6 separate regions of the Homo sapiens genome follow, and regions 1, 2, 3, 4 and 5 are each linked to region 6. The links come from fine-mapping of genetic effects on gene expression. A gene starts in region 6. Each other region holds a variant in brackets. All regions are shown on one strand. Distances are from middle to middle.

The links.
Region 1: its variant is fine-mapped to the expression of ERICH1 in whole blood (INTERVAL, PIP above 0.99). The same link has a PIP of 0.9 or more in neutrophils.
Region 2: its variant is fine-mapped to the expression of ERICH1 in prefrontal cortex (CommonMind, PIP 0.94).
Region 3: its variant is fine-mapped to the expression of ERICH1 in whole blood (TOPMed, PIP above 0.99).
Region 4: its variant is fine-mapped to the expression of ERICH1 in esophagus mucosa (GTEx, PIP 0.99). The same link has a PIP of 0.9 or more in lung and unexposed skin.
Region 5: its variant is fine-mapped to the expression of ERICH1 in cerebellar hemisphere (GTEx, PIP above 0.99).

What each region holds. Positions count from the first base shown.
Region 1 is chr8:701,999-706,977 of GRCh38, forward strand. The region is part of intron 2 of ERICH1 (glutamate rich 1); the gene reads right to left. Among named protein-coding and RNA genes, the nearest start is that of ERICH1, 27 kb to the right of the region's middle. The variant T/G (reference allele first, on the strand shown) is at 2,798.
Region 2 is chr8:608,587-613,565 of GRCh38, forward strand. No RefSeq gene overlaps it. Among named protein-coding and RNA genes, the nearest start is that of TDRP, 66 kb to the left of the region's middle. RefSeq lists an enhancer at 4,726-4,979. The variant C/G (reference allele first, on the strand shown) is at 2,959.
Region 3 is chr8:648,928-653,906 of GRCh38, forward strand. It overlaps a transcript of ERICH1 not described here. Among named protein-coding and RNA genes, the nearest start is that of ERICH1, 80 kb to the right of the region's middle. RefSeq lists enhancers at 2,718-3,219, 3,220-3,719. The variant A/C (reference allele first, on the strand shown) is at 2,730.
Region 4 is chr8:669,513-674,491 of GRCh38, forward strand. It overlaps ERICH1 (glutamate rich 1), which reads right to left. Exons shown (of 6, transcript NM_207332.3): 4 at 3,777-4,535. Among named protein-coding and RNA genes, the nearest start is that of ERICH1, 59 kb to the right of the region's middle. The variant C/T (reference allele first, on the strand shown) is at 2,643.
Region 5 is chr8:686,796-691,774 of GRCh38, forward strand. All of the region lies in intron 3 of ERICH1 (glutamate rich 1), which reads right to left. Among named protein-coding and RNA genes, the nearest start is that of ERICH1, 42 kb to the right of the region's middle. RefSeq lists an enhancer at 884-1,538 and a silencer at 1,118-1,377. The variant C/T (reference allele first, on the strand shown) is at 2,441.
Region 6 is chr8:729,333-733,332 of GRCh38, forward strand. It overlaps ERICH1 (glutamate rich 1), which reads right to left and starts at 1,892. Exons shown (of 6, transcript NM_207332.3): 1 at 1,808-1,892. The coding sequence starts at 1,829.

The sequences.
Region 1 (4,979 bases), 27 kb before region 6:
CCTGGGAGGCGGAGCTTGCAGTGAGCCAAGATTGCACCACTGCACTCCAGCCTCGGTGACAGAGCGGGACTACATCTCAAAAAAAAAAAAAAAAAAAAAAAGGAAAGGCAATCCACTGAGAGAAGGTGTTTGCTGGGCTTTGAAGCATCTAAAGAACCCCGGAAATTGGTAAGACAAGCTCCGCAGAAACACGGGCAAAGGCAGATGGCCAGGAGGCGTGAAAGGCTGTCCAGTTTTGTTAGCTTGGTAGCGTGCATTGAATAAGAAACAGAAACCTCACACTCAATTAGCGAGACTGCAAACACTCTGTATTAACCGGGGCCTGGAGAAACAAGAACGCCGGCGAGTCAAGTGAGCACACAGCGGCACAGCTCCTTTAAAGACACGCTGGGAATCTGTCCCTACGTTGAAATGTACAACCAGCACCTCTCTAGGCACACACCCCAGGGAAACTCCCTGAGTGCAGACACACAAAGACAGCAGAGAAAGATGCCAGAAAACACAGGAGCAGGCACCTCCCACCTCCAGCCAAGACGGAAAAGTCTTGAACAGACACTTAGAAGAAGAAATACAAATGGACAATAAGCACAATCAAAAGCTAAACATGAAAGAGGCCGACAGTGCGCCACGTGCTGCAGGATTCACTCTCACCACACTCAGCACCAGGTTCCGTGACAGGCGAAGGTCGCAGCTCGGCAGGAGGGTTTGCATGTTGTGTGGGAGCGACACTGGTGCCCTCAGCTAACTGCCAAGACCCGCCAAAGTGGACCCTTTCGGCCAGCACAGCCTTGGTGATGGACGCAGAGGGGCAGGGCGGAAGCCAGAAGGCAGGAGCGAGAGCTGGATGCCCCGGGAACCAGATGGAAGCCTGTCTCCGTCCTTGCTGCTGAGGGTAGCAGTGGGTGTCCTACCCAGGACAGGTACCCCGCACGCCTGGGGTTAGCTGAAGGAGGGCCCAAGAAGCTGCAGAGAGCCGGAGGCCCAGAACTGCCCACACCACCCAGGCAGGCAGCAAGTCTGCAACAATGCACATGAGCTGCGTGAGCTTTCACCTCCAGGAGCTGGAAACTAAAAGGGCTTACGTCCACCTTCCGAATTTCAGGCAGAAGGGCCTCTCGTGTCCCCCTGTAACCAGGAGCATTCGGGGAGGGAACTGTGGGAAATGCAGTTCAGCACAGCCAAATGCACAGAAATGAACCCATCCTATCTGTTAATGGCACGTCAGTAAGATACAGATGAAGGTGCAGGACAGACCAAGTGCACACACCCCATCCTCCTCCTAAGGCCCCACCAAAATGAGAATAAGTGGGTTTGCAACACACAGAGGACAAATGAAGGACAGATGAAAAAAATACAGTGTTGGAAAGTGAAAAGTAGACGGGATGCTGAATCCTAGAATGGCAGCCGAGACACAGCAGACACGAGATCTGCTCCAGAGGGGCCGCCAAGGAGCCTGGAAGTGGGGAGAAAAAGGGGGGCAGGCAGGCTGTGGAAGCCTCCCCACCACCCGTGGGAGACCGGGACTCACTCTCTGCAAAGGCCAGGCCTGGCTCCCAGGAGCCCCAGGCACCATAACTGAAGGCAAAGACTCCATAAGATAAACAGGGAGGGAGAGCCTGTCCATAGAGAGTGTGAGAGACCCTTCTTCTCCTCCTTCCCGCTCCAACTCTGAGACGCAGTGACAAAAACGAAGGGTGCAGCCGGAAGGGTGGAAGATGAAATTTGAGAAAATCTCCCAGAAAGTGGTCTCAAATCACTAAACCATAAAAAATCCGGGAGAAGATGTAAGAAAAAGGGGATCTATTGGGAGACTCAATGTCTGAATGACAGGAATTCTGTAAACCGAAGATTGAAAGCAAAGAGGAGGAAACGATCAAGGAAACAAGAGAGTGGCACATGTTCCCAGACTACGGAGGCCACGACAGATGAAAACAGACCATGCTCAAGACCTCAGCATCAGGCTGCACCCACATGAAGGCCAGAAGCAGAACCTCAAACTGTCCTAAGGGAGGAAAACTGCTCATAGCCACAGGAATCGAGAATGATGGCAACTGCCTTCTCACAGCGACACTGGATGTTAAAGACTTCCAGTGTGAAAGACAGTTATTAGCCCAGAATCCTACACCCCGAAAAACTTTTAAGTACAAGAATTAAGGTATACTTGACCTTCAAGATCTCTAAAATATTTATCTCCCAAAAACCATTTTTCAGGAAGTTACTAACGAACGCATTTCAACAAAATGGAAGCAAACCCAAGAAATGAAAAGACTGAGGCCCAGGACAGCAAAGGAAGCCCCCGGGAGAGGTGAGACCGGGAGTTACGGCAAGGACTTGGGGGCGGCCCATGCTGGGGGTGGAACAGTCTGGAAGAGGCCACGGAAGATGAAGCTCATTGACCCTGAATGTGTCTGACCATAGAACAAGGACAGGGAGGTGAGGGGAGAAATTAGTACTATTAAGTATTTAGAAGAAAATGTAAAAATCCAAGAAAACTATTAACTCTACTAAAGCTCTGCTCACTCCACTAAAGGTTTCACAAAACGGAATAATCGTGTGTTATGTGACTCAGCAAGAAACGGTGTTTACGGAGACATAAACATGTAAACAATACTGATGTACAAACATTTTGAAAAAATCATATTGGAAGGACGGGGGTTGTAAAAAATGTGCATCCATGGTGGGGGAAGCTGCTAAAAAAAACCAAAATCCTTAGTTTCCAAAGTCAATACATAAGATTTAATCCCTTCCCTCCCTGCCAAAAAAGAAAGAAAAAGAAGAAGAAAACAGGAAGCAACAG[T/G]GTAAGTGCGTGACTCTGAAAGGGGGGGTGGTTTTACCCAGGAGCAGCCACTGCAGAGCTGGAGGGTGTGTGACTGGAGTGATGGGCAGAACATTGCTGTTTTTAATAATAATTCCTGAGAATTATTTGAATCTAAAATATATGCAACACATAACTGACAAATTTAAAAAAAAGTTCAATATGGGCTCTTCAGTGAAAAAAGTTTACCAAAATGCACATACACCAGTTATTTTGGTTGTTGACAAATCAGTCTTATCTTTGGGACAAATGGAATTATCAACACTCTTCTAGAACCAAAGAAACAGATCGTGTGAAGTGAACAAATATCAATCAATTGGCTAAATCATTGCCATAATTACCATGCTTTGACCTAACCGTACAAGAACATTTTCCTCCGTCTCATGTCCAAGGACGGATGTGGGCACTGTTCCTCATCCGGCTGCCTCCTGTCCCTCACAGAGCGCCACTCGGCCCAGCCCTGATATCCAGCAGGACTCCTCCTGGACGTGCATCTCAACGGACACTGCGCGATGGCCCGTGCAGAAGTGACCCACGGTTCTTACGTTTTTTATTGTGATTTCATCATTTTACCCCCGGCCAAGACTTCTCTTTTTCCAGATGCAAGTAAATTATAACATTTTTCCTTTAACATTTCCAAGGCACAGCACTTCAAAAATATGTTGTTCATGATTAAAAAAAAATCAATAAACTGGGCATAGAAGGGAACTTCTTCAACATGATAAAGGCCACGTATGAAACCCACAGCTAACATCATACAGGATGGTGAAAACAGGGATGCTTTCTCCTCAAGATCAGGAATGAGACCAGGATTCCCACTCACGGCACTTTTTGTCAACATCGTATTAGAACTTCTAGCCAGGGCAATTAGTCAACAACAACAACAACAAAAGGAAGCAAAGGGCATCCAGACTGGACAGGGAAAGTACAACTATCTTTACTCACAAAGGAAAAAGTAAAACTACCCGAAATCACAGATGACAGCATCTTGCACAGTGATGTACCACAAAAGACACTGGTGAAAGGCTGGCCGCATGGGGGACGGTGGAGCCTTAAGATAATGCGGACCCTGAAGATGGTAACACTGCACTTTCACCGTACGTTTTTAATGTTTGGATGCTGAAAGGCTGGCTGCATATAGGACGGCGGACCCTGAAGATGATAACGCTGTATTTTCACCGCACCTTCTTAATGTTTGGATGCATGAACACTCACCATGGTGTTACAGTTGCCACTGTCTTCAGCACAGGCATGTACTGATTGGGCGAGCAGCCTGGGAGCAACAGGCTGTGCCACACAGCCCAGGCCTGCAGCTGGATCCACTGTCTAGTGTGTGTAAGCGCACTTTGCTCACACAGCAATGGACTCCTTTGGAATGTATTACCGTTGTTAAGTGATGTGTGACTGTACATAGAAAATCTAAGAAATCCACAACAAAAATGTAAGAGCTAATAAACTAGTTAGGCAAAACCGCAGGATACAAGGTCAATACACAAAATCCCTTGCATTTTCACAGACAAACACTGAACATTCCCAAAAGAAAACAAACAAAAAAGAAAGCAATTCCACTTACAATAGCACCAAAAAGAATAAAATACTTTGGAATACACTTTTTAAAAAACGGTAAAACTTTTCTACGTCCTGTAAGTACTGGAAGGAAAAATATAAAAAAAGATAAGGCCAGGCGCAGTGGCTCACGCCTGTAATCCCAGCACTTTGGAAGGCTGAGGTGGGCGGATCACCTGAGGTCGGGAGTTCGAGACCAGCCTGACGAACATGGAGAAACCCCATCTCTACTAAAAAAATACAAAAAAAATTAGTCGGACGTGGTGGCACACGCATGTAATCCCAGCTACTCAGGCTGGAGAACTGCTTAAACCCAGGAGGCGGAGGTTGTGGTGAGCCAAGATCATGCCATTGTACTCTAGCCTGGGCAACAAGAGTGAAACTCCATCTCAAAAACAACAACAACAACAAAAAGATAAAACTGCACTCTGAAAACTACAAAAGATGGTTGAAAGAAATTAAAAAGAACTTAAATAAACAAAAAGACATCCTAAAGCTAGGGACTGGACAATGTAATAGTGTTAAGAAGACAATACTGCCCAGTGTTCTACAAACTCATGCAATACCCATCAAAATTTCAAATGATTTTTTTTTGCAG
Region 2 (4,979 bases), 120 kb before region 6:
CTGTCTTTGGAAGCGTGGAGCAGCATCCACTCTCTGCCCCAATGTCACACCTTCTGAGGGAGATAAAACCAAAGGACATAATGAATCCCAAAGCAAAAAACAAAAGACAGTTCTCCCTAATACCCCCTCGCCACTCAGCCAAAACAACGAAACACCAACCAACTATTTAACCTTCACAAAATTCTGGCTCCTTGACAAAAAGAAAATGCATGGAACACTGCTCTATGAATAGAGAATCAGCAAAATTACAGATGGACCAGCAGGTGGGCAGGACGCTGGCTTCACTCTCAATCCCTGACATACACACTCCAGTATGGAGTGGAATTTAAGAGAGTCAAGTGCATCCTCATCTCTCATTTCCCGTTGGATCTCATTCTGCCAGGGGGAGTTTAAACAATTGCAACGTGCTTTCTCATACCCTTGTCTTAATGTACACCAATACTTTTATATAACTTCTGCTGCGTTGAATCAGCCAGAGACACACATGAACTTGTCCAACATTCGTTCTTATTTTAGTGTCAGTCTCTCGGGGAATGTGGCTTGATCTGTGTAATAACAGAAAACACAGTCCCTAGATTTTCTGAAACAATAACAATTTCAAAATTCTTTTCTATTTTCCCTGAAGTACAGTTATACTTGTGAGATTGTGCCTTATTTAAACAAAGTGATATGAAACACTTTTTTTAATGATTAAAGAATAATATTTTCATTGCATAAAAATAAGAAAATTCAGTAAACTATAAATAAGAACACCAAAACTATTCATAATCCATCATTAGAGGTAGCCATTAACATTTTGGAGTATTTTTCCAACATTTACACATATAATTGAGATCATACTCTGTATGCAATACTTTTGAATATAGCATTTAAAAGGGACTATTTTTTAGAGAAGTTTAGATTTATATAAAAATTGAGCAGAAAGTACAAAGTTTCCTCATACCTCCTCTCTCCAGTTTTCCCTATTATTTATATCTTGTCTTAGTGCGGTGCACTTGTTACAATTCATGAGCCAATATTGGTAAATTATTATTAACTAAAATCAATCGTTTAGAACAGTTAGAACTCACTTTTGGGGCTGTAAATTATGTGGGTTTAGATAAATGCGTAATGACCTGTACCCACCATCACAGCATCACAGAGTCTCACTGCTCTGAAAATCATCCGTGCTCCGTGGCTTCAGGCCCTCTCTTCACCAGCCCTGGCAACCAGTGAGCTTTTTCCTGTCTCCATAGTTCTGCCATTTCTGGACTGTCCTGTAGCTGGAATCACACGGTGTGCAGCCTTTTCAGATTGAAAAGCCTTTTCAGATTACTTCTCTCACTTAGTAATCTGCATTTAAATTCTTCCACGTCTTTTCACGGCTTGAAAGTTCTTTTCTTTTTAGCCCTAAATCATATCCCGTTGTCTTGAGTGAAGGTTAAAGTTCTTCAACTTCCCTTAAAGGTATGAAAATGAATGGATGGGGTGACGTCTCAGGGGAGGGAGTAAATAGAAAACCCAGAACTGATTGATCCTGATGGCTGATTGACTGGCAGGAGTACCGGCGTCATCTCTGGTGCCCCGAACGGATCCCTACAAGCCCCCTGCCTTACGAGCGGGTACTTCCCCTGCCAGGAGGGACCGTGCTGCGTCCCCCTGGGGCTCTTGCGAGGATGATGGCAAGCCCTCAAATAAAGTGAACAGCTCAATCGCCTCAGCAATGCTGCATTTATCAATAACAGCATCCTGGGCTGGGTGGGAGTCAGGCAGGGTCTGTCTTGTGAGCTCCTGGCACGAGAGCTGCATGATGTTCTGAGCCTGTGAGTCATTGAGTAGCTGGAAGGGGCTCCGGGGACCTTGTGAAATTTGTGTCTTTTTAAATGTAACTATGATTTAATATCTGATGGGGTGTAATAAATATTTAGTAGCACATTTTTCTGCAGATGGCGAGGGAGGAGGTCAGTCCCTGTCAACAAAACACAAGTTGTCTGATTTACCGAACTTCCTGGATGGTTTGGGTTTGTGTAGAACCAGCATCTGTTTGAAAAATGCTTAAAAAATAATGCAAAATCTTTCTCCAAAAATTACCCAATTACCAAATACCACAACTTATCTCTTTCTTCCCAGTGGACTAAGTGCTAAGCGTGGCTTCCATTTCCTAAAATAAAGTGCCTTGCAATTAAGTATATATTCAGCTACTGCAGTTAGATTTTCATGTTGGTGGTGCAGAGCCCAGTGGAGAGGAGTTGATTAACTGCTGTGAAAACCAATTCCATTTATTTTATCTTCCAGTGAATTTTTAAAAGGAAGTTAATATGCTGACTTATCTTGGAACAATGTGTCATTATACTCCACACTTAAGCCCTGGGTATTAGTTTTTCTATCTTTAGAGTGACCTAAATTGAAAAGCCGCTGCCATTCTCTCTTCTGATCTAGAGCTGTCTCTCAGTTTGTCTTTCTTACTTGTAAAGACTGAGTATCACCTCATCACAACATTCGAGACACTGCCTACGACGGTTCCGGAAGTTTGGTTCAGAAACCAAACCATCGTGGTTTGGTTCAGAAAGACTTGGGAAAATGAGTCTTATTTTGAGAGATAAAAGGTCCCAAAGTGAGATTTGAGAAAATAGATGTCTAATAGGGTCATTCATATCAACCTCGGAGACAAATGATATTTTTTGCTCGTTTCTTTTTTGTGGGCCAAGCTCAACTATGTTTCAACTGCAATTTATTTTATTAGACTTTCTTTTTATGTAACTCAGACTTAAGAGTGACTATATGGAGACTAGAGTAAATCATGTTATGAATTACCCCACATCCTTCACTCTAAAATGCAGTTTGCTGCCAGAATTATGCTTCCAAAATGGTCACAGATAATTACTGTGTAGGGCCCAAGCACAAAACACCCTGTGGGGAGAATCTCAGATTTTCTGCACAGCTGTGTTTCCTGAGACCTGACATTTTCAGCAGAGCACC[C/G]TGGAGCACGCACACGAGTAAGACGCATTCCCGCCCCGGCTGGCACAGACTCGCTGGAGTTTGTGAGGTCTGCCTGAGGAGAAGGACCATATCTAAAACCTAGTATCAGGATTTCAGGCTAGATTGCATCTTCCACTAAGTTTTTAAAATATAAGATTTTTTTAGAGAAGCAAAATGGGTAATATCGCAAATGTTCAAAAAGTTATATAAATACTATTGCATATGGATAACATAGGATGCTAGTGCTCATTAAAAACCTCATTATAGAAAATTGTGCCAGGTGCAGTGGCTCATGCCTGTAATCCCAGTGCTTTGGGAGGCTGAGGCAAGGGGATCCATTGAGCCTAGGAGCTGACACCAGCCGGGCAATATAGGGAGACTCTGTCTCTACAAAAATACGAAAATACAAAAATTAGGTGGGCATGGTGGCGCACGCCTGTAGTCCCAGCTACTCAGGAGGCTGAGGCAGGAGGATTGTTTGAGCCTGGGAGGTCGAGACTGCAATGAGCTGTGCTGACGCCACTGCACTCCAGCCTGGATGTCAGAGCGAGATGCTATCTCTAAATAAATTTAAGAAAGGATGAATTGTATTTGCAACAAGCCATCGTGGTGAGAGCGAGGGATTCGGGTACCATGGAGCTCAACAGCTGGTTTTGAATGCACCAGAGCATTAAAGGAAGGAAATGACACGCTCAGGATTTTAAATTCCTGGATCAACTCTTGACCAGAGGCTCCTGTGACTGTCCTTAAAGAACATCTTCCTTCCCATCTGAAATGGATCCATTTTGATTGGAGCTAGCACGCTATATCTTTCTCTACCTCCATCTCTATATGCTGCAGCATAAATGCATTCCCTCACAAAATAAAATACATAGATTTTCTTTCTCTTTTAACTCAATTTCTTATGATTAAAAGAGGAAGAGCAAAGTACTGGCGCCGATGGAGCATGCATGGCTGAGCCAGATTTGGTCTTTTCCAAGCCCCACGTCCTACTGGAGGGCTCAAAGACAATTACAATGTAGAGTAACAAAGCAATGCATTGCAATGCCTGCATTTAAGATATCAGGGCAAGTCCTGAGGGTATAAGGTACTTGAACATGAATCAACTGTCTAACACAGTAACTAGCAGAGTTTGAAAAGCCTCAACATTTGAAAATGCTCAGGGCCTCGTTTCCGTGGATGAAGAAAATCTTTGCAGATTTGTTGTATCTTGTATTAATGTTAATTTAGCTAAGTAAATAGATTTATTTTCATTTACTTTCCAATTTTTATTTAAAATGACATGCCAGTGAATAAAATCTGGAGACCAATAAAGTATTTGTGCATATGCATGCATAATATACATAGAATGTACAAAATAAAAATATTAAAGAATGAATTATGAACCTCATTATGTGGATAAAATGCACTTGAAGTGGAAAATATTCCAAACATGAAAGAGAATTTTCATTAGGTAGAGTTCAGAAATTGTGACAAAGGTATATCTTAAATGTATTACTCTTCTTATGTAAGAACATTTGTTTAAATTATAAGAATGCCTAATGGGTTGAATTTCATATGTGTAGACAGATCCAAATTTTTCAAAATGAAAATTCAATATTCATGAGACTCAATCTAGAAAATACATTAGAAAAGGAAAATATATGGAAGTTATAGGAGTAAATTATAAAATCCTAGTCAGAACTGATAAATAAAACACAAAATATTTGCTCAATAAGCTCTCCAAGGCCCTTGTATGACTTAATTTCTTTGTGCCTTTGTTTCATTATCTGTGAAAGAGCTTCAAAAGTTGCATAAAGTCAAATTGGCTTGAAAAATTTAAGAGCTGTATTGATTTATTGGTCATTCTTTTGGCAAATACTTATCGAGTGCTTTACTACAAACACAGACGGTAGTTACAAACATGCCCCTAGCATGCAATTTTCTCCATGACCAAATTCACTTATTCATTCTTTTGCCAAGAAGCAAAGATTCCCACAAGGTTTGCACACTCCATCTACCTTCCTTTCAAAGCCTTGCTG
Region 3 (4,979 bases), 80 kb before region 6:
ATCTATACACAGGACATTTTCCTGCCTGTAATCTCTTTGCATATTTTTAAGTGGATTAGTTCCAGTGGGTGTGTTCAGGGATATTTGCATACTAGTGCAAATATGTTAAGCTCAGCAGGGTGATTTCCCAAATTCATTCAAATGCTATTATTGATAACAGGATTTTCTGTGGAACTGTGTGCCACTGTGGAAGGGCTGATCTGAGTTACTGCCTGTACAGACACAGACGCACTTTATTACCTGGATGAATTTAGACATGGGGGGCAGGAAACTGTGAGGCCAGGCTTTCCTCCTGTCCACCAGCATCTACCAGCATCCAGGGAGAGTAAGAGATGGCATATCTGTGCCAGTGCAGCTGTCTTTAGAATAAACAAATATTTAGCTAAAATAACACATACCTATTTCTTTGCATTTCACCCTGAAAACAACAAGAATAGAGTTTGCAGAAGGGCTTTTACGCTCACAGTGTGGTTAAACTGGCTTCTCGGCTAAGAGCGGGGCTTGCTTTTATTCTATGCTGTCCTCAAGGTCAAGCACAGAGAATTCCAGGGTGGGTGTATCCTGTGCATTGTGGAAATGCTCAGAGCCCCTGGGCCCCGGGGGGAAGATCCACAGGGGAGAGGTGAGCCCTGTTGTCACCTTTGTTGGATGTCCAGCACCGTACCTCTCTCGGGGGAGGGGGATTGGGGTGGGGCCGCGCCGGCTGCTGTGAGCCCTTCCTGCAGGAAGGTGGGCTCAGATCATGAAGCACTGCCTCCAGGAGGCAGGAGCTGGAAGACGGGGCTCCAAGGCCCTGTGGCCCCTGGCTGAGCAGTGTGACCATGAGCGCAGGCACCATCCATCCACGTGGAGACAGAGCAGCCGCACAGGGCGGACGGCGTATCAGAGCAGGTGAGCTGACAGCTGGGCTCCAGCAAGAGCTTTCCAGGAATCGCTGTCAGGGCTGGGAGGAGCAGTGGCCCCAGGTTGGGAGGAGACGTGACAGGACCGGGCCTGGGGAAGCGTGTGCTGGCGTCAGGGAGAAGACGGCAGCCGCGACATCTGGCACCTGGGGCTGCAGAGCCTGAGCACCCCGGACCGCGCCCGGCGAGGGCGGCCTCCCTGCGCTGAGCGCGACCTGCGTGTCCTGCTCTCGGCTTTCGTGCCGGTTCAGAAGAACAAGGCCGGAAGGTTGCGGTCTCAGCGCTCGCTCCATGCCGGGAGCGCGCAGAGCTGAGGGCGCTTGCGTGTCCGGCACAGCGTGGAGCCCGCGTTCCTCTCTGCACTCAGGAGCTGCGTCCCGTTCCGTGCTGGCGATGAGGACGCCGGCCTCCGCCAGGCCGAGTCAGCACTCTGTCCCCGGGGTCTGACTCCGTGGCCCCTGTCCTCGCTGGGTCTCCCCGTTCCAACTTTAGTGACACGGTCTCAGGAGAGGATGCAGGCAGAACGGGCTTTCCTTTTTCCTGCCCTGGGGGCTGACATCTGCCTCACGGATGCCACCCACTGAAAGGGCAGCCCTTGTCGCCTTAACTCGTTTTCCATCTCAGTTACCGTCCTCGGCAGGGCACTGTCACATCCTAACGTGAGGACGAAATGGGCTTGACCTCCCAGCAGCAGCCGCCCCGGTGGCTGCAGGTACCCCCGAGGCCGGCCCCAGACACTGAAAGGGAAGCAGCCAGCCTGACCAGGGAGGAACCGGTGTCAACGCGCTCAGATTCCAGAGCCGGCACCGTGCCATAGGGCAGGAGAGAAGGAGGACATGAGGCGCAGGACGCAAGTTCAGGCCACCCTGACCCTGAAGAGGGTGCAGCCACCCCGCAGCACACGCTGATAAAAGGGTCTCTTCTGTTGTGGGCTCCGAGGCCTGCAGAGCCGAGACCTGACCTGATAAAGCCAGAGCAAGGGGCTGCAGCCACCGCAGGAGGCTTCAACGATTCATGGTGAAAGGTCCGACTGAGAGCCCTGGAGTGTGTTATCCCAGGAGAGCTCCTTGAGTGTGACTGAGAAATAGATCTGGGGTCCTGTCACCAAGGCGGTGTATAAACAGTTTACAAATGACAGCAGATACGAATCACCGAAGCCAGGCAGAACACCCCTCGTTCGTCCACGATAGAGCTCTAGTCTTGCAGGGGTTCAGTGGTTTAAGGAAGATGCGTTGTTGGGGAGCCACAGTCCCTGGCTTATCACACATCTTGCCATGGCTTGATTCAGGCCAACATTGATACTGCATTTCAGTTAAGTTGAATTAGACACTGCAAGTCAATGTCAGTTGTTTTGGGCTTCAGTTCACATCTGGTTCAGCTCAAGTTGTTAGTCCAGGGTTGGGAAGAGAAGTGGCGCTGGGCTTAGGCGTCCTCATCTCCCGAACCTGCCTGACACTGTGACACTGGGTTGGGTGGGAGTGGGAAAAGAGGGGAAGGGATTCTGAAAATACTAATTCTAATTTTGCAATCTATCTTTACAAATATCATCCCAGGGCTCCTTGGAGAAGCAGCTGATCCCAGCTCCGGGGCACAGAAAGTTTCCGGTAAGCCTGGGGCTTCAGGGCCTTCAGAGCAAGAAAGTGCCCTTGGCAATGGGGCAGGTGGAGAAAATGCAGGAGCCAGCCCGGAGAGGCTCCCACTGCCCAAAGAAGAACCTGGGAGTCCACGAAGTGGGAAGGGGGATTAGGGAGAGAGACGGAGAGCTGGGGGCAGGGGAAACAGGTAAGCCAGAGAGAGAGCTGGTGGGCAGGGACAGGAGAGGCAGAG[A/C]GCGAGGGAGACGGGCAGGGTGGGGGAGAAGACTGAGGGGAGAGAGAGGCTGAGACGGAGTGGGAGGGGGGAGAAGACTGAGGGGAGAGAGAGGCTGAGACGGAGCGGGAGGGGAGGGCATCTGGTTTCCCTTCGGCAGCCACTCTGACATCATTGTCAACTCTACTCGGAAATCGGTGAGGAAAGGGACTGACTTCAGCAGTTCCCCCTTGCTTAAGAGAAAGTGTGTTTCATTTCCTCTTGATGAGAAAAAAGCCTTTTTCACAGAATGCTTGGTAATAAATGTGGCAGGAATGGTGAAATTAGAAGATCAACTATTTTGCAACCCGAATGAAGGCACTGATTTGGGAAAAGGCCGTTGGCAGTTGCTGAGGCATCCGGGGACCTGGAGGCAGAGCGTTTGCGGGCGCTGGGGCATCTCTGCATAGGTTTACCACCGACGGCTCTGCACTCACCTCTTCAGACAAGCGATTGCCCTGGTGCTCCATGCCACCCCATCGACGCCTTCCCTGAACTCACCCTGCACCCACGTGCCCTCTGAATCCGACGCCTGAAGACCTTACTTCCGGTGGCAGGAAATGCAGCCAGCAGGAGGAAAGGTTACGTGATGGAGGGAGAAGCTGTTCTACAAGAGCAAGACTGGGGCCTGGCCCCGTCAGAGTCACCACCTTTAGGGAAGCAGTGGACAGAGATAAATGAGACAACACAGGCTCGCAACCAAATGCAGAGCCCGACCGTTGTTGGCTGCTGGTTGGAAAGATGTGCTGGGGACAGTGGGGAAATCTAGATAGGAACGGAGTGGAGTTGATATCACATAAAGTGACCACGAGCTTGCCTGGGATGGTTCTGGCTCACACCTGCTGTTTCCGCATAATTATTAATCCCACCTCATTCACTTTCCAAAGTGTCCTGTTCTGCTGATAATTCCTATGGTCATTCAAAAGCTGGGGAATTGGTGTAGTTGTCTTAGGCATGAATAATGGTGTTGAGCTTACAGGGTGTCTTCATTCCTAGGAGATGCCTCAGGCTCAGAGAATTTAAGCTACTTGGAGAGACCAGGGGCACACAGCTCATCTGATGTAGAACTGGTTTATAAAAACTGTGATAAACAAAACAACCCAAAAGTAGGCACGGGACCGGAATGGAAATTCTCCTAAGAAGATAGACAAAGGTCAACACGCACGCAAAAAGATGTCCGGCACCACTAATCAGCAAGGAAATGCAAATCAAAACCACGAGGTGCTGCTTCATAACCATCAGGATGATTATCATATATTTTTACAAACGAGAAATAAGTGCTGGAGAGGATGAGGAGGAATGAGCACACTCATGTGCTGTTGCTGGGAATGAAAAACGGTACAGCCATTGTGGAAGACGGGGTAGAAATTCCTCAGAAAATGAAACCCAGATTTAATTACCGTATGATCCAGCCCTTCCACTTCTGGGCATAAACCCCCAAACTGAAAGCTGGAACTCAACAGGTGCTTGTACACCCATGTACAGAGTAACATTATTCTAACAGCCAAAAGGTGAAAACAGCACCATGTCCATCTACAGATCAATGGACAAACACAGTGCCATGTGCTAACACGAACTAAATGTGGCCTGAGAAGAATGCCAGGACGTCTATGTTTGAGTCCTTGTGGACGAACTATAACCTACCTTAATAGCAGACAGGACTGAAAACCTAATTCAGGAGTCTGCGCCTGTAATAGTGGCCGAGTCTTGACCAATCCCAGCAGCCATACGTCAACCATGCGTAGACTGCCGAGTGTTCAAACTGTTCCAATAAGGCAAATGCCAACCTGGAACCAATCCAGCTGTTCTGTACCTCACTGCCGAGTTTTATATATCACTTCCCCTTTTTTTTGTCTATATATTTGTTCTGACCACGAGGAATCCCTGGAGTCTCTCTGAATCTGCTGTGATTCTGGCGCTGCCCGATTCATGAATCATTCATTGCTCAATTAAACTCCTTTAAATTTAATTCAGTTGAAGTGTTTCTTTTAACAAATGGAATATGATCCAGCCTTAAAAAAGAAGGGAGTCTGGACACAGGCTATAACACGAGGAACCCTGAGGATGTTATGCTGGGTGAAATGAGCCGGTCACAGAAGGACGAATCCCGCAGGGTGGCACTGAGGAGAGGTCTCCGGAGGGGTTGGAGCCACAGAGACAGAAAGTAGGATGGTTGGTGGCTGCCACATGCGCGCAGGGGAATCTGGACACAGGCTATAACACGAGAAACCC
Region 4 (4,979 bases), 59 kb before region 6:
GGACGCCTCCCCTGGCCCGTCTACACGTCTGTCTGGTGGGACGCCTCCCCTGGCCCGTCTACACGTCTGTCTGGTGGGACGCCTCCCCTGGCCCGTCTACACCTCTGTCTGGTGAGACGCCTTCCCTGTCCAACACACGACTCAGGGCTACGAACAGCAGCAGGTTAAACCAGACAATGAAAGCAAGCTCTCTATGTCCACATCACATCGCTTAAAAAAAGAATCAGACTGTGGCTGTTTAGAAGAAATCAAGGAGAACTGAAAACAAGCCCCCGACTTCCCCTGGATCTGGCTGCTGGTCTTGTTTCTCTGGCTGCTGTTCAGCAGTATGACTGCAATTCACTTGCCTCTGGTGGTTTCGGCGTTAACCCTGCTTGGACTTGGCAGGACTTCTTCAACCTGTGACTCTGTGTCCTGTAACAATGGTGTAAAACTCCCAAATGTCACATCTCCGTCCTGCCCCCGCTCCGTCCTCTCTCCTCTCCACCTGGGCCTGTTTCAGGGACACAACTTCCCACTCCATGTCTGCCGGGCTCTTTCCTGTGTTTTCCACCCGTTTTCTCTCCACTCTGCATTCTGGGGACTTTCTTTCACCTGTCTTCCTGGTCACTAATTCTCTTTTATACCAACTCTCATTTGCTGTTTCCCTGTCTTTTGAGGCCTGAATTTTAGTTACTATATTTCTCAGGCCTAAAATTTCCATTTGATTATTTTAGTAGATTCAAATTACCTGGCGAAATGCTCCAATTTTTCCTTTTTCCCCTTATTTTAGGCTCCTTATCTGATAACATCGGCCTCTCCCACTGTGGCTCTACTGCTCTTTTTTTCTCGTGGTTTTCGGTGCTGTGGTCCTGTCTCGTGGCATGCCCGGTAAACTGTTGCTGAACGCATAGGAAAGACTGCAGAGGTCTAGGATGGCGACATTTTCCTCTAGAGGGCTCACCCTTTGCTCCGCCAGGCAGACCGAGTAGAGGGGGATCCCCTGGACCGTGCAGGGACTGAGCTGACTCCAGGGTGGCCACACATTTGGGACAGTGTCATCTGCTTCTGGGCTGCCCTGCTCTGCTGGGCTCGAGGGTCAGGCCGATCCTCATCTCATCAGCACCTCAAGATGGCCAAGAGGCTCCTATGTTATTCGGAGGCTCTCTGTGTGGCTTCTCATCTTCCACCCACAGCTTCAGAATTGGGCAAAGGTTCTAAGGGAAGCCATGCAGTGTTGAGTTCTGTTCTCTGACCTCTGAGTCCACCGGCCCCAGCTCCAACCTCTGAACCCCCTGGCCCCAGGTCCAACATCTGAGCTTACTGGTCCCCAGGCTCTGACCTCTGAACCCACTGGCCCCTGCTTCGACCTCTGAGCCCACCGGTCCCCAGGATCCAACCTCTGAACCCGCCGGCCCCTGCTCCAACCTCTGAGCCCACCGGTCCCCCAGGCTCCAACCTCTGCACCTGCCAGCCCCAGCTCCAACACCTGAGCCCACTGGTCCCCAGGCTCCGACCTCTGAACCTGCCGGCCCCTGCTCCAACACCTGAGCCCACCGGTCCCCAGGCTCCGACCTCTGAACCTGCCAGCCCCGGCTCTAATGTCTGTGCTCACTGGTCCCCAGGCTCCGACCTCTGAACGTGCCAGCCCCGGTTCTAATGTCTGTGCTCACTGGGCTCCAGGCTCCGACCTCTGAACCTGCCGGCCCTGGCTGTAATGTCTGTGCCCACTGGTCCCCAGGCTCTGACCTCTGAACCCGCTGGCCCCTGCTCCGACCACTGAGCGCGCTGGTCCCCAGGCTCCGACCTCTGAACCTGCCGGCCCCGGCTCTAATGTCTGCGCTCACTGGGCTCCAGGCTGAGACCTCTGAACCTGCCGGCCCCGGCTCTAATGTCTGTGCTCACTGGGCTCCAGGCTGAGACCTCTGAACCTGCCGGCCCCGGCTCTAATGTCTGTGCTCACTGGTCCCCAGGCTCCGACCTCTGAACGTGCCAGCCCCGGTTCTAATGTCTGTGCTCACTGGGCTCCAGGCTCCGACCTCTGAACCTGCCGGCCCTGGCTGTAATGTCTGTGCCCACTGGTCCCCAGGCTCTGACCTCTGAACCCGCTGGCCCCTGCTCCGACCACTGAGCGCACTGGTCCCCAGGCTCCGACCTCTGAACCTGCCGGCCCCGGCCCTAATGTCTGTGCTCACTGGGCTCCAGGCTGCGACCTCTGAACCTGCCGCCCCGGCTCTAATGTCTGCGCTCACTGGGCTCCAGGCTGAGACCTCTGAACCTGCCGGCCCCGGCTCTAATGTCTGCGCTCACTGGGCTCCAGGCTGAGACCTCTGAACCTGCCGGCCCCGGCTCTAATGTCTGTGCTCACTGGGCTCCAGGCTGCGACCTCTGAACCTGCCAGCCCCGGCTCTGTCTGTGCTCACTGGGCTCCAGGCTCTGCTTTTGGTTTCTCAACCTGTGAGGCTGGTTTTTCTGCCTCTCTGGGCTCCACCAGGTCCTTTCCCCAGACCCTCACCCAACGCCCACACACAGGACTTGCAGATTCCTGAAGACAAGTGGCTGCAGATGTTTCCATGATAATCTCCCCGTGAGGGTTCCAGGAGTTCCATCTTTCTATGAGCTGTTTTCCTGAGTAGCTTCCTGATCCCTTCAACAGGTGTTTC[C/T]CATCCTGGCTTTCTGGTTACTCCTGGCATGACTGTTGGTCTGCCCCAAGCTGCTCGATCACACACAGAATAGAAAGTTTACTGAGATCTTTCTGAATTCTGCGTCTACTTTGCAGTGTCTTAGCCATGTCTTCCTGATGTGCCATCTGGATATATGTTTTCAATTTGTTAATACAATCTGCTGAGAAACACGCTAAAGAGGAAGAGGCTAGAGTGCTCTTCGTGTTGAAATCAATCTATTAAAAATGGTACTTCTGCATCTTTGTTAAAATCAGTTACTTACTTCCCAAATTATTACATAGCTGATATTTCTCAATCTTGCTCATAAGAACACCATCAAATGCCTTGCTTAAATCTGGATCTGCTAAACCCACCACATTAACCTGAACCTGCTGGTAACGTCATTGAAAAGACACCTATACCCACAAAAATTAAACAGTATTAAAAAAAATTAAAGAGAAGAAAGCCAGGAAGCCAGCGCACGGTGAGTATCTCTGTTCTGGGGCAGCCACGTGTCCCTAGGTCAGCTGTCAACAAAGCGTAGTGCAGATGTAAGCAAGTGCCATCTGTGACATTAAACCTATGTTTATTTTCCTTATCTTATGTCAGTACAAACAACTGCACAATAATGCATGCTGAGAAATCGTGCATCCGTTCTATGTGGAAGAGAAAATGAAACCTGTCCTAAAGGCGCAAGCTGTGTTTCCTTCACCTCTCAGTCTGCTTATGAAGGTGAGCTCAGCTCATCAAAACCTCCAATCTGGATTTATCTCTTGTTTAGAAAAATAGCCTGGATGCCAACACACTCCAAAACCTGACCTTAGAGGCATGGAGGACACGGGGCCAGCCTGTCCTTGGCACAGCTGGCCAGGGCCACCACACTGCTTCTCTGGATACGCCAGGGGCGCATGCCCATCCACATCATCGGTGGAAAGCACATAAATACTCTGATCTTTGCCTTATAACTAATTATTTACATTGAATATTTTTTACTTATATTAGTTGCCTTACAACTAATTATTTTACATTGAATATTTTTAAAGTATGTTTTAACATTTAAGCATTATATTTGTTTCTTTTAATAAACTTTTAAGTGGATGTCACTATGCAAGAGAAAAACAGTAAAAAACATACCGTCATAAAAATACATTTCCTGTGTTGACTTCAAAAAATTTAGAATACTGTGTGCCTTTTCATTGGTAATTGTATCATCTTCCTCGCTGGCGTCTGCACCGTCCTCCTCCCCGGAGTCTGCACCCTCTTCCTCCCCAGCCCATGTCGGGTCTTCCTCGCTGGCGTCCGCACCGTCCTCCTCCCTGGTGTCTTTACCGTCTTCCTCCCCGGCCCGTGTCAGGTCTTCCTCAATGGTGTCCACACCGTCCTCCTCCCTGGCGTCTTTAACGTCTTCCTCCCCGGCCGGTGTCGGATCTTCCTCACTGGCGTCCGCACCCTCTTCCTGCCTGGCCCGTGTCAGGTCTTCCTCGCTAGCGTCCGCACCATCTTCCTCCCTGGTATCTTTAACGTCTTCCTCCCCGGCCAGTGTCGGGTCTTCCTCGCTGGTGTCCACACCATCCTCCTCACAAGCCTCTCCCACGCCTTCCCCTTCATTGCTGCTGTCCTCGGGCTGGTACATGAAACTGACACCAGCAGCCTTTGCTGCCAAGCCGGCTGCTTTCTTCCTTTTAATTTGCTGTTTCTTTTTCAGTTTCCTTTTTTTATTTTTGCTTATTGTGGTGCCATCTGTGTGCTGTCGCTGAGATTTCTCCTGTAACAGACTCTGCTGTTTCTCTAATTCTGCTTGTTCTATAAGAACATTATTGGGATTTTTAAATTTTTTCTTTGATTTATGCTTCCTAATTCTTCTTCTCTTTGGCTGGTCATGAGGATCCTGATCTGTTAAAAAAATTCAAATATAACAATTTTCAGTACAATGAAACCATAACAAACATATTAGGCTAAATAAATTTTCCATCAGGATCTTGTAGTTTTAGTAGAAAAAGAGTTTACACTATTTACTTCGGTGATTCTCAACTTTACCATCAAAGATCCTAGGACTAACGTAATATAAATTAGCAGTACATACACTCACAGATGCGACAATCATAATATATGGTGTGTTTTGAAGGATGTACAAGTTGTTGCTTTTTTTTTTTTTTTTTTTTTCCTGACACAGACTCTTACTTTGCTGCACAGGCTGGAGTGCAGTGGAACAATCTCGGCTCACTGCAACCTCTGCCTCCCAGGTTCAAGTGATTCCGGTACCACTGCCTCTCCAGTAGCTGGGAGTACAGGCAAGCACCACCATGCCCAGCTAATTTTTTTTATTTTCAGTAGAGA
Region 5 (4,979 bases), 42 kb before region 6:
GCGCCCCTCCCCTCCTCTAGGACCAGGCGAGCTTGGACACAGCTGAATGTGTGAACTCTCATATCAATAAATCAGCGTGACAAGAATGAAACACTGCTAGCTCTGACTCTGTCAGGCCCTTGAGAGGGTGAGATGCGAGGAATGCGGAGCGGGGGGCAGCCCCATCACCCACCCACGAGCCACTCTGGAAAGGCTAAGAGAAGTCACGCTAGGACTCCTTCAGGAAAGGCAAAAGGCAGAGAGAGCCACGATTCTGTCAAAACAGAGCATGTACGGATGTTTAACTCAAACGGAATCCACATTATAACTGTGCATTTACTGCATGCTTCCAGAAGCCGTGAAGTTAGTAACTATTTCAACTGGTGCTTGCTGCTAGAATCACCATCACAACAGCTCTCCACAGAAATGACTTATGTTCATGACTCTGTAGCTGGATCTGAGCACAGAATCTGAGTCAATGCCTCACACCGCTTGTGATTAGGAACCGGGGAAACACTAACACTTGCCTTACGGGCTGTTTTTATACATAATCATTCAACGCAGTTCACCAAATATTGACTTAAGACTTAATTCCACCAGGCGCCAGGATAAGGCTCCTCGGGGAATAAAAAGCCGGCAACGCTCACGTTTGCACAAGCTTTGCAATAAGCCCAGACGGTCTGGCACAACAAACGCTAAGCGTGTGGGTCCAGACTGTCACCCCATGGGCAGAGAAGGGGCCCGCTAACACCACGCGCTGAGGGGGCGCAGGGGAGAGGCGGGAACCCGTGGAGGGAGGCAGCGGCGCAGGGAGCAGGACTGGAGGGAGGCGGGTCCCTGTGGAGCGCAGCAGGAGGAAGGCAGCGCGCGGGGAGCGCCCGGGCGGCCCAGGCGAGGCAGGACGCAGCGCTGACCGGACCCAGGGCTGAAGTCGGCAGAACTGCGGCCAGTGCCCGCCGCGCCCGGGGGAGCGCGCCAGGCCCGCGGGGCCCTAGCCGAGGCCGTAGTAGGTGGAATACGGGGCAGCCACGGAGGAATCGGGGGCGAGGCGCGGAGAGGCCCCGGATGCAGCGGTCCCGCCCCGAGAACGGAGCGCGCGGAACCGGCGCAGGCCTCCGAGGCTTCCAGCCGAGACGGCACCCAGGTTTCCCGAGCAGGGTCTGAGGCTCCAAGGACATCCCGGCGGCGAGAAGGCGCCGAGAGACCTGCCCGGGTCCCGAGCCCCGACCGCAGCCCCAGCTCCCGCCGAGGCCCTGGAAAGGCGGGGGAGACGCGCGGCGGCGCGCGGTCAAATTCCTCAGGCACCCAATGCAGTTCCCGGCTGCAAAAACACGGGAGACAGGAGAGGAGGGAGGGTCTGCAACCCAGGCGGGGCAAGTGCGCCCTCAAGGCCGTGGCGAGCCGGGGCGCAGGACACGGCAAGGCCCCTGAGCCGCCCACGCAGGTTTCCCGACGTTCTCGCAGAAAAGGTAAAGCGGCACCCCGCCCCCAGTTCCGCCCGTCCCCGCCCCGCCCCGGCCCTTCCGCCGCCCCGCCCCGGGCCACCCCACCTCGGCGCCATCCCGCTCTACGCTTAGCCCCACCTCGGCCCCGCCCCCCGGTCCCTCCGCAGGCTCCAGAGGCGCCCAGGCTCCGCTTCCCTCCGGCCTTCCTTAGCGCCGCGCCCATTCTGTAGGCCAGGCTCACAAAGGAGCCTCCCCAGCTAGGGTCAGCTCCTACAACGCCACGGCCCTCCTGGCGCTCTTCCCTTTCTTAGGCCTGAGCACACCGCCCAACACAAGCGTTTAAAAAGCATTTGATTCAGTGAATTACTTGGTAAACCCTGATTACTCAGTGTACTTGCAAAAAGGAAAAGATGTAGCTCAGAAAACAAGCCATTTTAAGAATCTAAGAAGAATGAGTTAAGCAGCAGAGAAGTGGGGAAAGGTAGTAACTACCACAAACTGGAGGTCAAAGGAAACAACTGCTACTGAATAAAAACAATGAAAAGCTGAAATCTGAGCTTCCTGGTGGCAAAAGCAAAAAGGGTATCGATGGGAAATCTCTCTCTTATCCAACAAGAAGTACACGAGTTCATAAGAACAAAATATTTTTCTAGCGCTGAACTCTAAAGGGAATACCTTTCACCTGGAGTTTTACATAACTGCTAGTGACTGCACAATGAATAAGGAACAAGATTTTAAATGACAGTTTTACAAAAACAAGGAAAAAAGGCCAACACTCTCCAGGTCTTTTGATTAATCTGCAATAAAAGATGAATATGAAAAGTGAAACTCCAAGATGATATTTTCCCAGAGAGGTACACTCATATAAACTAGGTGAAGAGCTCACGTATGATCTTTTTTTTCTTTTTTTGAGGCGAATTCTCGCTCTGTTGCCCAGGCTGGAGTGCAGTGGTATGATCTCGGCTCACCACGGCCTCCGCCTCCCCAGTTCAAGCGATTCTCAGGCCTCAGCGTCT[C/T]GAGTAGCTGGGATTACAGGTACATGCCACCACACCTGGCTAATTTTTATATTTTAGTAGAGACAGGGTTTCGCCATGTTGGCCAGGCTGTTCTCAAACTCCTGACCTCAGGTGATCTGCCTGCCTTGGCCTCCCAAAGTGCTGGAATTACAGGCGTGAGCCACTGCGCCTGGCCTCACCTATGATCTTGACTTGATGTAAGGTAAGCATTTCCAAAACCTAACGGACTGATCAATTCCTGTGTTCCCTGAACGAGGCTTTCAGATGCTGGCGGTGCCCCCACACCCCTTGTCTCCTCCTGGAGGTGTCTGGCAGGAGCAGGAAGGTGCACCACCATGCAAGCTGCCAGCACTGTGTGCCACTGGAAAACCCAGGGAAGAGGCATGTTGGGGGCACTGCGGACATTTTCTTCTAAAAATTACATGGCTGGACTTGTTTCCGGCACCGTGGCATAGGGACACACTGTCGTGCTGCTGGGAAGGTGCCCAGCGTCCCCACAGTGGTCAGCTGGGTCCAGAGTCCTGTAATGCGGTCTACACAGGAGAAGACGGACGTAAGCGGTATTTTGAGCACAACGTGCTTATCCCAGCTGCCCAGAGGAATGTCCACATCACTGTAATAGACTCTGTAAATTCATGTAGGGCAGTGTTCCTACGACGCGCCAGGACCGTGAGCAGAAGAGCGTCCTGCCAGATAAGTGAGTTCGCCTGCTAAATGTGGCTGTGTAGCATTTTCCATGGAGACTCTGCCAAAAAGGACAACTTTCTTCTGGCACAATCTATAGTGGGTTGTTCTGTCACTAACAGGCCAGAGGTTTACTGGCTTCTGGAGAGCAAGACGCAACCCCACGTCAACAAGAGGAGGAGTACGTGCATGTTTCTGTCTAGAGCCAAGACCCATTAACCCAGGTGGCAGAGGTCCCAGAACCACATCCAACACAATGCCATTCAAGACTTCCCACAGCCCGTCTCCTTCCACCTGTTCCTGACAAGCTGTGAGCCCAAAAGCACCCACAGTCTGTGCTTGTCACATTCAGAGATTACCCAAAGAACACAGACAAGACAGACTGAGACAAACTGCTGGTACTTAGGTCTTCCTGTCCTGGCTTTTGGGCACAGGTCTGCCTGTCTTCATAAAAAATACACACAGGCCCTAATTGATATGGTCAGTGAGCACTAAATCTCCATTTATCACAAGGCAGTAGCCAGGTACCCAGGACAAGACAAAGGGCAGGCCCTCAGCCTGTTGGAACCGGGACCGGCAGACCCAAGGGCGCAGCAAGTGCCGCTGCGGGGGCCTAGATGGCCTCCGGGAGGGTGGAAACCAAGTCTCAGAGGCCGGGCAGCCAGGAGGGGCCAGACTGAGGGCTAAGCACCAGGTATGCCACCCCTGCCTGGGCGACAAGGCCCTGGGCGGCCGATCCAAGTTGCTGTGGGGATGCCCCGGCGCAGAGCAGGGCTGCGCAAGGTCCTGAGTGTGAATGCCCAGGGGGCCTGGTGCCAGGCACAGCAAAGGCAAAAACAAACAGCACTTTCCTCTGCAGCTTCCTGGGAGTTGACGTGTGGGCCCCACGTGTTCAAAATGAAAGCCAGTGACCTGAGTGCTTCCAAGAGAGACCACGACAACAACGTTGGCCGTTATTTTTCCAGCTCCAGTTCTCACCTCTGTGCTTAAAACTGCAACCAAAAAAGCTCAAAGGCTCTTCCTTCTTGTGTGCCGTGTTCCCACACTGACCTTGGAGGGTCAGAGAGAGAGGGGTCCCATCCTTGCTTCTCCTGGCCTCTGGCTCCTGAGGGCCCTGGAGGCTCCATCGGCTCTGCAGCTGCAAGGCTGTGCTTGGGGCTTGCTCTGGGCATTTTCTCTTTCATTTTGAAGAACAAAGGTAGGAAACACAATTAGAGGGTGGGCTTTGCTGTCTTTTTCCCAACTTTACCATTTCAAGTCACTGGCGCCTGGAGAAGGTGGCAAGGGGGCCCGGGCAACAGGAAAGGAGTGACTCCTCAAGGGCTCCTGGACACGTGTCCTCAAGAAGCAGCTTGTGAAGAGAAATGCCTGTCTATGTGGTGCAAGTATCTTTCCACTTCCTGTAAGAACACTGCTGTAGCTCAGTCCTGACACAGCCTGTCTGGGAAGCAGTGTTGGCTCATGGCCAAGCGAGCCTTCTACCCTGGGGTCCAGCACAGGCCTGTCCTGGGAACATGAGCAGCATGGACAACGCGGTACAACGGGGCGAGAGCGCCAACCGCGGACAACAGGAAGGGCGTGAGTGAGGGCCAACGCACTTCCTTCTTGGACAGATTAAGTACGCAATGAAGCATATTCACCCAGAGGAATTTATCTTCATAAGAACGCACATTTTCTAGTTAAATAATCTATCTATCTAATAATTGTGTTTCAAAGATTTTCAACAGGGCTTGAAAGGATGAATCCATTATTCCTTAGTTATCTCATTTTTGTTTTTATGGTTTCTGATCCTTTAATTTAGGAAGCCAGAAAGACAAAAGCAGTCAAAAACCACATTTTGTTGATATTCAAATTA
Region 6 (4,000 bases):
GCTGGACCTTGGGAAAACAGACATCCCTGCAAGGGGACACGCCAAGCTCCATCCCCTCCTCCTGCGGCACCTTCCCCTAACTTCACTCGTTGCAAGCCACGCAGAAGGGAAATGCTCTGAAGAAGACACACACTCCAGTTTCCTGCTCCATCAGGTCACAAATGCTGGGAAGTTTTATTCCAGCTAAATCCTCCCTTCAGTGCCTCTCAGAGCCTAAGTGCCACTCAGCCGATGGGCTCTTCAGGTGATCTTGAGGAAGACACACAGAAAACTAATATTTTCTTTCCCACCTACATTTTATAAACTTTTGGGATTTATTAATCTATCCTTCCAACCACAATGTCCTTAAACAACGTAAATTTACTTGACCATTCTGTCACATATCCAATAGGAAAAAAAGGCTGTTTCGAGGGAAGGTGATTAGTGAATGACTAAAACAATTAACAGCTTTCATTCACTTTAATTTGGTGAATGGAGAAAGGTTTTTTTTTTAAGTTGATTAGGTACATTACAGATGCTATAATAATTTCTTGCATAGAGAAGAGCATTTATTCCAGGCTTAGAAGAGTGCAAACATTTGAAGGAATGTAAGAGAAGAGTGTGTTGTGGTTTAAAACAAGGAGAAAACCTGCAGTAGCAAGAAGCCCCCCACCAAGAAGGCAGGCACAGCTTTGCAGGCAGCTGACCGTCAGGTCTGCTCCTAAGAACCTCGACACTGAATTCACAGCCTGCCAGCCCTGCTTCCAGGAGAGGGTCATGAACAAGGTATTTCTGGTGCTCATTAACATACGTGAATGTCCATTTTAGAGCCTAGCATGTGACTGCTTAAAAACTCTTAGGTCATTTTTAACCTGTGAGCTGATCAGGTGACAATTCCCTGGTCCTGAAGGAGAGGGGGAAGCCCACGTGCAGTGTGTCCCTGAAAAGGAAGACTTGAGACCATATTTTTCTCCACATTCTGCCTCACTGAGAAATTTTTTCTTTTTAAGCAATTGTTTTATAACTATAGTTTGCCATTATCTTTTCATTTCAAAGGGAAAAACATGATTATCAGTTTTAAACATAGAGAAGGAAAAAAATTCATCAGCGCCTGAATTAATCCAAGTAACACGAGATTCATGTCAAAAACCGCCACTCTTTTCATTATGATGATGATTACACGGTGAGGGTAATGAGCTGGGGTTTGCAGGAAGCAGGAGCACGCTTTATTTTCTAACACTTCCGTTCTAAGGCACGGCCAGGTTAACCAATTCTATTTATTCTCCTCCTGTCTTTGGTACTAATGCTATCACAGAATTTAATAAGCACTAGGATGCGCCCCACACCTTAGGTCCACTGAAGGTAAACACCATGACCTCCGTCTCTCAGATGAGGACACAGTGGCTCTGGGAGGTTCTGCTGTACTTTTCGGTGAGGCTGCCGGAGCCGGCTGCAGCCCCACCCCGGAGCCCTGGGCTAGGACCCCTCTGAAGAGCTGAGCGGCTCCTACTCACTCACCAACAGGGGCTCTGCTAAGAACACGAATCCCTGGCTGGGCTCGCCTCCGCCCAGGACCCCAGACACCAGGTGGGGCCTGGCAGGGCCGGCCCGACCAGCAGCCATGCAAGCAACAACACGGGCGAGGGGTGGGCCGCGGTCCGGGGTAAGAGCGGGGGATGGGTAGGGACTGGGGTGGAGGTGGGGAGTCGGTCTGGGTTTGGGGTGGGGCCTGGAAAGGGGCCGGGGTCGGGGTCCCGAGTCAACACCGCGGTCTGAGCCGAGAGCCGGGTCTGGGGTCTGGGCAGGCCTCCGCACCGCACCCACCTACCGTGCTTCCTGTGCGCCGCCATGCGGGACCCTGCCGCGGACCTCAGACCACGGCGCGCGGTCCTGAGCTGAGCGCCGTGCCTTCCGGGTTCCGCCCTCCTGGGTCCGCCCACAACAGCAGGAATGCCCAATCCGAATACGGGACCCCGCCACGGGCGGTCAGTCAACTACATCACGGCCGTAGATTGGCTGATATCGAGTCTGTAGGCGTGTCGCGAGGCTCCAGACCCGCCTCTGGGAGCCCCGCTGTGGAGCATGCGCGGAGGGAGGGCTGCGGGGGCGGCGGTGCGGGCTCTTGGGGACCTGAGGACGCTGTGAGAGCGCTGGCGGCGACTGCTCTACGCGGTGGCGGAACTCTGGGGGCGAACGCTAGGGAGGGCGTTGTGGAGAAGAGGGGAACGGAGGGCCCCAGAGGAGAGGCGCCCACCCCCAACCCCACGGGTGCACCTGCGGATCCCCAGTCCCCGCTTCGCCCCCAGGCACCCGCCGGACACAGGGAATGGCCAGGGCAGTGCCCCCGGCCCCAAGGCACCTGCAGGATACAGGGAGTGGCTAGGGCGGTGTCCCCGGTCCCCGGGCACCTGCGAGACACGGATAGTGGCCCTGGCTGTGACCCCAGCCCCCAGGCACCTGGAGGATATAGGGAGTGGCCAGGGCGGTGACCCCTAGCCCCTAGGCACCTGCTGGATACAAGGAGTGGGCAGGGCGGTGTCCCCGGCCCCCAGGCACCTGCAGGATACAAGGAATGGCCAGGGCGGTGTCCCTGGCCCCCAGGCACCTACAGGATACAGGGAATGGCCAGCCGGTCCCCAGACACCTGCTGGACACATGAGTGGCCAGGGCGGTGACCCCAACCCCCAGGCACCTGCTGGACACAGGGCATGGCCAGGGCGGTGTCCCTGGCCCCCAGGCACCTGTGGGACACAGGGAGTGGTCAGGGCAGCGGCCCCCACGTCACCCCGGCTTGCCAGACCCCTTCTTGTCTCCCTGTCCAGCTCCAAGGGCCTCTGCCCTCCCGCTCCACCCCCTCAGGACCCTCCTCCTTGAATTCGTTTCTTCCAAAACATTTCCCAGGTGTGTGCCAGGCGCTGTTCCTCATGTGGGCTGTCTCAGGAGAGGAACCCACGGAGATGGGTGTTTTGGAGGAAAATGAAGCTGGTAGGGCCTAACTGTAGAGTGATGGGCGCGGGCTTGAGGTAGGTGAGGGAGCAAGACTGGGGGTGCCCAGGGAAAGAGAGCCCACAGGAGGGAAACGATGTCCCAGGAGAACGGCTGCCCTGTTTGAGTTTGGGGACCAGAAGCAAGGGCAGGATAAGGGGAGCTCAGATCAGGAGGAAAGGAGACCCAGACCCAGGCAGGGTCTGCAGGGAGCCTGATAACTTTGCATGTTCCAAGAAGCAGGGTGGAAAGTTGTTACACGATGTAGAGCAAAGGGGTGAAATGATCTGATGCATTTTCTTTCTTTTTGGGGTAGACAGGGTCTCACTCTGGCCCAGGCTGGAGTGCAGTGGTGCCATCACAGCTCACTACAGCCTCCAGCTCCTGGCCTCCAGCAATCCTCCCACCTCAGCCTCCCAATGTGTGGGATTACATGCATGAGCCACTGTGCATGGCCTGATGTACATTTTAAAGAAGTCATTTAGCGTTGTGATGACTAGAGTTGCATGGAAGGAAGTGTGGAGATTTCATCTGCTGCAATAAGAGATGCTGACAGCTCACATCCAAGTGGTGGCACTGGAGGTTCTGGGTGGGGGGGCTAGTTGGATTGTGGACATGTTTTAAGGTAAAGCCAAAGAGATTTTCCGATTGATCAAACTGGGCTGTGACAGAAAAGGAGAAATGTAGAATGGCTGTAAATTTTTCGTTTGGAAACTGGAAGGCTGGAGTTGCACTGAGGAGGTGGAGAGCCTTCTGGGGATCTTCGTTTGGTGGTAGTGTGCAGTTTTAGACAGGTCAAGTTTGAGGTGCTCATAAGATGAGTAAGCATATGAGGTCATGAAGGGAGCAGGCGTGAACTTTAGAAAGTGGTCCAAGGAATAAGCCCCGAGGGGCTCTGGCCTTTGAGAGGTGGGGAGATGAGGGGGCCCAAGCTGTGGTACATGAAGGGTGGCCAGGGAGAAAAGGAAGGTCCTGAAGCCAAGTCAAAGAACGAACCACTGGTCTCCAATGATGTGGATGAAGCAAGAGGAGGACC